2 linked regions of the Homo sapiens genome follow. The protein of the gene in region 2 interacts with the protein of the main gene of each other region in a biochemical or structural test. Each region holds a gene or a part of one and is shown on either strand. Other genes may lie near its edges.

What was found. The genes of interacting proteins can lie anywhere in the genome.
Region 1: the proteins of ITGB2 (region 2) and KNG1 form a complex in vitro, tested with the Homo sapiens proteins (one study listed by BioGRID).

The regions. Positions count from the first base shown.
Region 1 is NC_000003.12:186,741,327-186,744,916, reverse strand, and holds the end of KNG1 (kininogen-1 isoform 1 precursor), read right to left. Parts: intron 3,396-3,590; coding exon 2,586-3,395; 3' UTR 1,213-2,585; coding exon of another isoform or gene 1,132-1,212; 3' UTR 507-1,131; downstream 1-506. UniProt on the Homo sapiens protein: Kininogens are inhibitors of thiol proteases.
Region 2 is NC_000021.9:44,910,864-44,917,901, forward strand, and holds part of ITGB2 (integrin beta-2 isoform 1 precursor), read right to left. Parts: intron 1-7,038.

The sequences.
Region 1 (3,590 bases), on a different chromosome or scaffold from region 2:
GTCTGAATGCCAGCCCTGCCACTTATTAACTATATGACCCTGGGCAGGGCACTGTGAACTACAGTTTCCTTGTAAAAGAATGATGTTCATGGGGGCCTTAGAGTGGTTGTGAGGATTAAGTTATATGCCAAAAGTAAATTATCTAGCATAGCAAATGGCTGTAATAGGTGTTCGATAAATGTTTTTTTTCTTTTGAGACTGAATTTCATTTTGTCACCCAGCCTGGAATGCAGTGGTGCAATCTCAGCTCACTGCAACCTCCACCTCTCAGGCTCAAGTGATTCTCCTGCCTCAGCCTCTGGAGTAGCTGGGATTACAGGTGCGTGCCACCACGCCCGGCTAATTTTGTATTTTTATTAGACATGGAGTTTCGCCATGTGGCCAGGCTGGTCTCGAACTCCTGACGCCAGGTCATCCACCCACCTCGGCCTCCCAAAGTGCTGGGATTACAGGCGTGAGCCACCATGCCCAACCCAATAAGTGTTTTTATTACAGAAAATTTAAAATCTCCGTCACTTTTTACTTTATTGATTTTCAATTTGCTTCTTTACCTGGATCAGAAAGATAATTTCAAATTGTTTGGAGGTTGAGTATTTTCTGATAGTGAGAAGTTGGTAGACATTCTATTAACAGAGATGATTTTAAAAATATTTTTGGTAATTAACTGGACCATAAGAAAACAATACTAAACAAGCCAAATTACTCTTAGCTAAGGCTTGGAAATCTGGAGAAAGAGGAAGAAGAGAAGGAGAGAGTCCTTAGATTACTGGTAGAAGCATGACCTACTAACTCTTCTTTTAGCACCCGTGGTGGTAAGGAAGTCCCGCCTAAGGACTTCTGCCTTGGCTAGGGAATGTTCCAGTGTTGGGTTATGAGCCTCCATGGCAGAGCCACAGCACTGACTCTCTGACCAGCTGGAATTTGCTGCAGAATGGGTAGGGCTGAAAGGAGACCACTGTGAATTAGAGTTAGAACATCAAGACTGATCTTTATTTCACCCAGAGGCAGAGTGATAAAATGGCATTCTTCTCTATTTAAATTCTATCCCATCTTTCTTCTTGTCCTTCCTCTCAAGGTTGCTGGCAGAGGTGGTTGGGGCTATGTGCCTGGAGTGAAGATTCTGCCCATTGGTCAAGAGACCTCCCTCTCAGATGCTGGCTCTGCCCCTGCCTTTGGGGGTCGACCCTTGTACTCGCAGGACCTTAGGTGACTCTGTAAGTATAGTAAAACGCAGTTAATATGATGTTATCATTCAATCATTTTTAAAAAGTGGAGCAACCAGTTGACAAGGTAAGACTTTTTCCTGACATCTGTGGTTGTTTATTTAAAAGAACAGACAATATTTAAAATGAAAGACAAACTCAGAGGTTCAAATGCATCCAATAACTTGAAGCAGCAGTGACATATACATCCAAAGATGATTGTAGCTATTTAAAGCCATATCTTGTTTTTCTAGGCAAAAGTACAACATTGGTTATAAAGCATATACCTTCTTTGCACTATAGGGCAATGAAAGGCAATCCTATTATTCTGCTTCTCAAAAATCAATGGTCTTCAAAGTCATAGCAAAAAGACTATAAAGTGAGACTAGAGAGTAATTTCCTCATAAAATTTCGGAACAAACTTTGCATCACATTCCATAATATTCCCTTGTCAATTATTTAAAAAGTTTTATTAGCAAGCCTGCTTCTATATTGCTCCCTCTGCTTTTCATCCTTATCATTAAGCTCGGAGCTTCTGTAAACTAAGAATTACTCAATCTAGGCTCAGCAAAAATAAACAGAATACTTCTATATGAAAGCCTGTTGCAAAGAGTAGTTAATGAGTAAACAGAAATTTTTGACTTATGAGAAACACTCTCACTCAGAAAGGGCAGTGGGAGTATTTATTTGATATAACTAGCCCATTTTGGGAATAGAAAGTCAATTAATTTATGTCCCCCCTTTCCTCCCTTTGGCCAACCTGTCTTCTTTCTTGTTACTTTGAAATCTGGAAGTTTTTCTTATTATTTCTTTTTTTTTCTTTTTTTCTGAGACAGAATCTTGCTCTGATGCCCAGGCTGGAGCGCAGTGGCACGATCTCGGCTCACTGCAACCTCCGCCTCCCGGGTTCAAGCAATTCTCCAGCCTCAGCCTCCTTATTATTTCTATTCCATTAATAAGTTCAGCATTTAATCTCTTGACTTCCCTTATTTTCACACACATTCAAATACCAAGTGCCACAGTTTATTAAGAATGACAAGAATCTTTGTATGCAAATTCATGACATATGTTGTAAGGTACATATTTGTTATCAGAGAAGCCAATTGCAGCAGGCCATACGGCACATTAGTTTGTCTGTTTACTGTGCTAGTTTAGAAAACTTGGGAAGAAGATTCAGAAAAGAGTTAGAATTGTGGCACACAATTTTATGCAGTCCGTGGAGACTGATGGTGTCTCCACTGGGAGTCTCACCACTTCTCTTTAGACTGTTCCGAAGCTGCATGGTTTTTGGTGCATTATATCAGGATATTTTCATCTGGACAATGGAGAGAGGGATATTGATACTTTAATAAAGTATGAAAGAAATACCCATAGCCACTTAAATTAAGAAAGGCCATCAGTGAGATCGAAATAATAAGATTCTTTCATTTGTGTGGTTGGATTAATTTCACTAACTGACTTCCAGGGGCGTCCAGGACATTTTGGGGAGGTCGTGTCTGGAAAATCTGATATTGGGTTAAATGAAAGGCCATTTGGGTCTATCTGGATATCAGGGATCCAATCGTCATCACTCTGTATGGGAGCTGGTGATATAGGAGGCATCATAGTTGCAATGAGATCAGAGTCCTGAAAGTCAGAAAAGGTAACTGTTACACCTGGCTTGGCTAGGGAAGGGATGGGTGTTGGCCCTTCTGTCTTCTCTTGTGTCTGTGCAGAAGGTGTAGTACTGTCTTCAGAAGAGCTTGCCAAATGCTCTGTTTTCCAACCATTGTGCTTTCCATTCTTTTTGCCTTTATTTTTATGTTTTCCGTGGCCATGACCATGCTTATGCTTATGTCCATGGTCAAGGACATGGCCCCCTTGGTGTTCAAGATCATCATCAAGTTTGAACTTATGTCCATGACCAAGACCATGCTGTTGTTCGTGTCCATGGCCAAGGCCATGTCCTCTTTGGTGCCCATGCCCTTGGTCACGTTCATGTTTATGGCCATGGCCAAGATTATGTTTTCTTTGTTTTTCATGGCCCCAGTCATGTCTACGAGTATGCCCTTGTTCTTTTCCTGAATCCCGCTCTTCATCTTGTGCAGGTGCCATGGAAGTGTGGGGTGGACTTACAGTTGTTTCTTCTTTTATTTCCCCTATTCGTGATGATCGGAAAGGTGAAAAACCTGGAGGCCTTTTCATCAGTGAGATCTAAACAGAAAATATTAAGATGAATGTATTACTGCAAAAATCATGCTATTGATGATAGAAAAAAACACTGAGATCTGGCAATGTTATCTTAGTTTACAATGGGGGAGGTGTTTGCCAGATTTTAAATGCTATATTAACATTCCAGAAAGGATGAATAATTTTTTTTGTCTTTTGATTGATCTTAAAATTTGTGGA
Region 2 (7,038 bases):
GGCCTGGGACAAGGAGCTGGGGCCCTGTCCCTGCTGCAGGGGGTGGGTTAGGGTCAGGCCAGCACAGCTGCACTGGGCCCAGCTGCCAACAGCCAGGGAGGGAGGGATCCCGGGCTCAGCAGTGCGGGCAGCACACCTGCTCAGCCAGGCACCCAGGACAGCTGCAGCGGGCCCCTGCAGAGGCACACAACACAGGCACACACACACATGCAGACGTGTACACACACCACACATGCACGTGTACGTGCATACAGATGTGTGCCTGACTGCATGTACACACCACGTGCATGCACACACCACACATATACATGCATCACACCACACATATGTACACACAGAGATGTATACACCCCTTACCCACACCATACTCCCCGCAAGACACTACACACCACACACAAATATACACATGCACACGTACACACACATACACACCACACAGACACACACACCACACGCACACACCATACACACGTGCAAATGTACACGCACACAAACACCAGAACCCCACACACCCGGTGTGTGCACTCTGCCCCAGTGTGCCCCAGGTCCTCCGTGAGCAGAGCCTGTGCTTGGAGGAGAGCTGGGCTTGGCCCTGTCTCTCTGTGGCAGAAACATAGCCAGGAAGAGAAAGCTGGCTGGATGCCCGCGGGTGCCAGGCTGTGTGCCAGGAAGAGAAAGCTGGCTTGATGCCCGCGGGTGCCAAGCTGTGTGCTAGGCCTGCCCAGGAGCCCTGCAGTCCCTGCCAGGTGGGAAAAAAAGTCACCTGACTTGCCCAAGCCACCAGTTGCCGGGGTCCTGCCCTTTTGTTTCCAGATACACACCCACCCCGTCCTTAACCCACGCATCCACAGCCAGGGGCGGCTCAGTGGTCACTCACAGGCCCTCGGCCCCAGAGGCAAAATGACGGAAGCAGGCCTCAGCCTGGTGCTGGAGGCCGGCAGCACCTCCTAGCGGGCAGCAGGGCCGTTCCACCCCTGGGTTCCCTTCCCTCCATCCGGGAGGTGCCCAAACCAGGCCTAGGTCGGCTCCTTGGGGGGTCTTAGGGCTTCCTAGGTGGGGTGGGCCCCTGGGTCTGACCTCCCAGGACCTGAGAACATTATAGCTGGCTGGGACCCTTTTATCTGGCACCAAGAAGGTGGAGAGGTACTGAGAAGGGGTACCCAGGAGCCTTCCTGTCATGGTGGGCAGGAAGACATTTCCGTTACCCTGGGGCTGTTGTCAGAAGCAAAGATCAACACACCTCCTCCAGCAAATGCCAGTTCCTGTCACGGCCTCCCAGGCTGCTGGGGCGTTCCTGCCCCACACCCTTCCCTCGGGTGGTGCTGGCAGGGCCACCCAAGGTTCAGTGGGCAGACCCAAGCCAGCAGAGCCCCAAACTAGGGCCTGCCGGCTTTGAAGACAGCGCTGGGTGCTGTGCTGTGGCCCGGGAGGCTCGGGTGCCCTCAGCCACAGGCCCTGGCTCCCCTCCATCCCCCGAAAGCCCTGCACCTGTGCTGGGGGCTCTGAGGCCAACGGAACACCCACCAGGGGCCCATCTGAGGATCCCACAGCTTAGACGCCCCAACAAGCCCCAAGGTCCTGTTGTTTTGGCAGTGACCTCATTCCCTGGTTCCCAGCAAAATTATAATCAGAATACAAAAATGTCAAAAGGGAACCCTTGATCCTTCCCGTCCTGGGGTCAAAAACAGAACCTGCACCCTGCTGTAACTTCCTGGAGGAGGTGGTTTTGGTTCACATTGGGCCCACCCTGTGTCTGAAAGCCCCCATATCTCTGATCGTTGGGGGTTGTGGTTCAGGCCGAGGCCAGTTCCAGCTCTCCATCTGGGCCCCCTCAAAGTCCTGCGCCTGGACTGACCTCGGTGCCACGAGTGCCCACCAGCCCCTCAGCTGATCGGAGGCCCTGTGCGTGCTGGAGCTACCCCAGGGTGCAGGGTCCAGCCAGCTTCAGGACTCCCCCAGGGTGCAGGGTCCAGCCGGCTTCAGGACTCCCCCAGGGTGCAGGGTCCAGCCGGCTTCAGGACTCCCCCAGGGTGCAGGGTCCAGCCGGCTTCAGGACTCCCCCAGGGTGCAGGGTCCAGCCGGCTTCAGGACTCCCCCAGGGTGCAGGGTCCAGCCGGCTTCAGGACTCCCCCAGGGTGCAGGGTCCAGCCGGCTTCAGGACTCCCCCAGGGTGCAGGGTCCAGCCGGCTTCAGGACTCCCCCAGGGTGCAGGGTCCAGCCGGCTTCAGGACTCCCCCAGGGTGCAGGGTCCAGCCGGCTTCAGGACTCCCCCAGGGTGCAGGGTCCAGCCGGCTTCAGGACTCCCCCAGGTCGCAGCTGCGCCAAGTGGGGAGGGGGTGCAGACCTCCCCTGGCAGCCCCAGCCAGGCTGGTAAGGACTCACACCCCAGCTCCACGCTCTCCCTGGGGCCGCAGACATGAGGTCTCCGCCCCTAACACAGTCGTGACCAGTGGCATGCAAACACTTCATACCCTCAAATGGGGAAACTGAGGGCCCCAGCAGCAGCAAGATATGGACCTGGTGCCCAGTTACCCCGGGCACTCCCACCTGCCCACAGGGAGAGGGGGTGCACCTTGATTCCAGCAGGATTGGCTCAGAGACCACGGCACCCCAACCTTGACCACAGGAAGGGGGCTGGTGGGGAGCCACCTTCTCCCCACTGTTGCTCCTCCATGAGCAGCCCTGGGGGGCTTGGAGCTGGGGGCACAAGAGAAGCCAGGCCCTGCCCCACCCCCCAATGCCAGTGGCTGAGCCCAGACAAACAGCTGGGGATGAAGGTCCGCTCCAGGAGGTAAGGCAGTGCACTGAGCCTGGCAGCCAGCCTCCCTTCTGTGGGAGAACAGGGCAGGGCAGCCCCTCTGCCCAGCAGCCAGGATGGCCCACGGAGGTCCAGGGCCTCACCTGAGGCCTGAGAGACCAAGACCCCATCAGGCCTATCTGCCTCAGTTTCCTCCATGTGCCTGGAGGTGGTCGAAGGGCCTGTGCCAGCTCCCTGGGGGATGGGAATGGGTAAGGCACAGATGTAGGGCAGCATTCGGGCAAACAGGTGCCTGGCCACTGTCACCTCTGGTGCCCTGAGGCTAAGCCGGCAGAGCTGCAGGGCAGGAGGGGAGGAAGAGCACAGACACCCCCCACCCCAGCCCCTGAGCTGGCCCCAGAGCTCTGGCCTGGAGCCTGATCACCCTGAGGCCCTCCCTGCTGCCCCACACTGGGGGCAGGTGCCCTCCTCATTCTCCAAGGCCCTCCCTGCTGCCCCACACCAGGGGCGGGTGCCCTCCTCATCCTCCAGCTCTGGACATCCCCCATCTAAGGGCGGGCGGGTCCCCTTACCAAGACCTAAGGTGCAAAACCCAAAGCTGAGGCTGCTTAGGAATCCACAGCCCCACAGGCCTCTCAGAACCTTGCATCAGAGTCGCCCTTGACCTCAACCCTGCCCGAGAAGGAAGTGCTGGTGCAACCCCAGCCCAGCTGCAGGAAGTGGTACCTGTCACCAAGTCCCCTGCACAGGGGAAGCAGGGGGCTGAGGGGGCAGGACCAGGGGGACGAGGTCATCCTTCCCCGGAGAACCCCTCAGGGGCCGGGCGCCCTTCCCTCCCGGGCACCAAATGGACACAGCTAACAAGAACCACACTTCACGGTGAGCAAAGCTCTGAACATTCAGGCTCTGAGACACGAAAGCGGCGTCAGAAGAGACCTGCAGCAGATCCGGGCCAAATCACACACACCCTTTCACAGAAGTCGAGGACAGGAGAACAGGAGCAAACACAGGAAAGGAAGAGGCCAGCCTGGTGGCTGACGCCTGCAATCCCAGTGTTTTGAGAGGCCAAGGCAGGAGAATCACTTGAGGCCAGGAGTTTGAGAGCAGCCTGGGCAACACAGTGAGACTCCTACCTCTACAAAAAATAAAAATAGAAAATAAATTAGCCAGACATGGTGGCATGCATCTCTAGTCCCAGTTACTCAGGAGGCTGAGGCAGGAGGATCACTCGCGCCCAGGAGGGAGAGACTGCAGTGAACCCTAATGGCACTGCTGAACTCCAGCCTAGTTGACAGAACGAGGCCCTGTCTCAAAAAAAAAAGAAAAGAAAAAGAAAGGAAACTTTAAGCAAGACAGCAGAGAGAGGGCAGAGCCTATGCTGGGAGAGGAATCCAGCGGGGTCAGGCTTCCTTTTTATTTTTTTGAGACGGAGTTGCGCTGTCACCGGCCTGGAGTGCAGTGGCGCGATCTCAGCTCACTGCAAGCTCCGCCTCCCAGGTTCATGCCATTCTCCTGCCTCAGCTTCCTGAGTAGCTGGGACTACAGGCTCCCACGACCACGCCCAGCTAATTTTTTTGTGTTTTTAGTAGAGACGAGGTTTCATCGTGTTGATCAGGATGGTCTCGATCTCCTGACCTCATGATCCGCCCACCTCGGCCTCCCAAAGTGCTGGGATTACAGGCGTGAGCCACCGTGCCCAGTCTCAGGCTTCCTTTTTGCAACCCCGTAAAACCCTAAGACGAGACTGCTTGAGGAACCAGAGGCCCCGCAGACCCATTGGAACTTTGCATCAGAGCTTCCTCCTGCCTGTGCTGAAACCCACCTTGCGCTGTCCTAGAGGAGAGGCACTCGCATCAAAGTGACTCGGAGGTGCGCGGGAAGTGATGGACGATGCCGCCAGGGGACAAGGTTGGAAGGAAGAGGACATGGGAGCCAACCCCTGCGCTGGGAACTGAAGGCTCAAGGGATGATTATAAACTAGGCATCCACCTTTTAAGCCAAAAGCCAGAGCATCAAGATGGACTCATTTCTGCTTTGTAGGAATGTGATAAAGAACTGGAGAGAAGTGCCGTCAGGTGGGGACTGGAACACTGTCCTTGGATCACAGAGGCTCCAGGAAATCCAGGGACAAAAACAGGTCAGATCAAATAGGAACAAGTCGGAGCAGAGAGGATGCAGGAAAACCCAGCCCATGTCGCCTCTGAACCTGCGACCCTGCAAAAGCGTATTTTCCCAAGGGTCAGGGAGACGTGTTCCTACTGTTGGTTTGACTATCTGTGAAGTTTGATAGCACAGTTTTGTTTGTTTGTTTGTTTTTTTGAGATGGAGTCTCACTCTGTCATCCAGGCTGGAGTGCAATGGCTAGATCTCGGCTCACTGCAACCTCCGCCTCCCATGTTCAAGAAATTCTTCTGCCTCAGCCTCCTGAGTAGCTGGGACTATAGGTGCACACCACTAGGCCCAGCTAATTTTTGTATTTTTAGTAGAGATGGAGTTTCACCATATTGGCCAGGCTGGTCTCGAACTCCTGACCTCGTGATCCGCCTGCCTCGGCCTCCCAAAGTGCTGGGATTACAGGCGTGAGCCACTGCGCCCGGCCTGATAGCACAAATTTTAAAGGCCACAATTTCTGGCCAAATGAAATAAAATGAGACACCCCACCCCCCCGACACACACATATTAATAAGGAATGCTAAAGTACTCTGCTAAATACCTGAAGTCAAAGGGAAATCAAATGATATTTACAGCATTTTAGACAAGGGGACACCACTCCTCCATCTAACATGAAGGAGACTGTCTGTTCCTGGGTGGCGACGTGAGGCCGAGGCCCCGGACACTCTTGCTGTGGACATAAAAGAATGGCCACAAATGTGTAGGACTTCAGTTTTAGGGAATAAAACAATAAAGGAAATAGAAGAATAGGTATCTAAGAGTAAGGAAACCTCAGCATAAAAGCTAAGGGGAGGCCGGGCATGGTGGCTCATGCCTGTAATCCCAGCACTTTGGGAGGCTGAGGCAGGCGGATCACCTGAGGTCAGGAGTTTGAGACCAGCCTGAGCAACATAGTGAAACCCCATCTCTACTAAAAATACATAAATTAGCTGGGCTTGGTGGCGGGCGCCTGTAATCCCAGCTACTCGCGAGGCTGAGGCAGGAGAATCACTTGAGCCCGGGAGGCAGAGGGTGCAGTGAGCTGAGATCTCACCTCTGCACTCCAGCCTGGGCAACAAGAGTGAAACTGTCTCAAAAGAAAAAAAAAAAAAAAGCTAAGGGGGAAAATAGCAAGAAGACAGACTCTAAAAATGGCACATGTTGTACTAACAAATTGCATAGAGGAAATAGCTATTATCTCTCTAGTGCAAAAGGTAAATGGTAATCTTCATCTCTAAAGAGATCTTAGAAATTAATAACAAAAAGGTAAATACTCCATTCAAGGATGTTTCAAGGGTGTGGCACCCTGAGCAGGTAATTCACAAAAGAAGGAAGAAAACTGGCTAAGAAACATATGAGTCACCCCAGGAAAGAACCAGGGATTTCAGCCAAAATATCTTGATTCCCTGTGTAGCCGTCAACGTGTAAGATGCTTTGGCGGTTTCGGTGCCTGCGCTATGGAGTCCCACACAGCAACGAAAACATGCAAACAGCTGCTCAGGGCAGCTTGGCTTCGTGGTAAAAGTGAATTTATGGGGAAAAAAAGAGAGACACAGTTCCAAAATATTCTGCATTTCTCTGGGTGGTGGCACTATGAGTATTTTCAATTTTCATTATTCCTGTTTGTATTTTCCACCCTTTTTGTGATAAATGAATAAAGGACATTTTAAAAATGGAATTTCATGGTGGCCGACGAATTATGCTGAAATTGCTCCTTCGGATTCCAAAGCTACTGGCTTTCTTGTTCCCACTGTGACGTTGATGAGGACGCTGCTTCATGGCAGTGGGACCTCCCTGCTGGCATGGGCTTGTTGCCACTGTCACTCACCCATTCACCCATCCATGGGACAGGGGCTTGCCAGCCTCTCCTCTAGGCACGGCGCAGGGGCTGAGAGCTGCACTCCAGGACTCCTGGACTCTGCCCTCTGCTGAGACTCTCAGCACCTCTTTTCCCCAACACCTACCCCAAGTTTCCATCACACACAGAAACCTCCACCACTCCCAACACCAACATGTGTCCCCAGCGAGGCTGTTTACAAATCAGCTGGGCAGGAAGGTGTTCCCCTGGGGCTAACTCTTCTGCACTCTCAGACCCTGAATGGCCGGAGAGAACACGCAGCCCGGGGTGG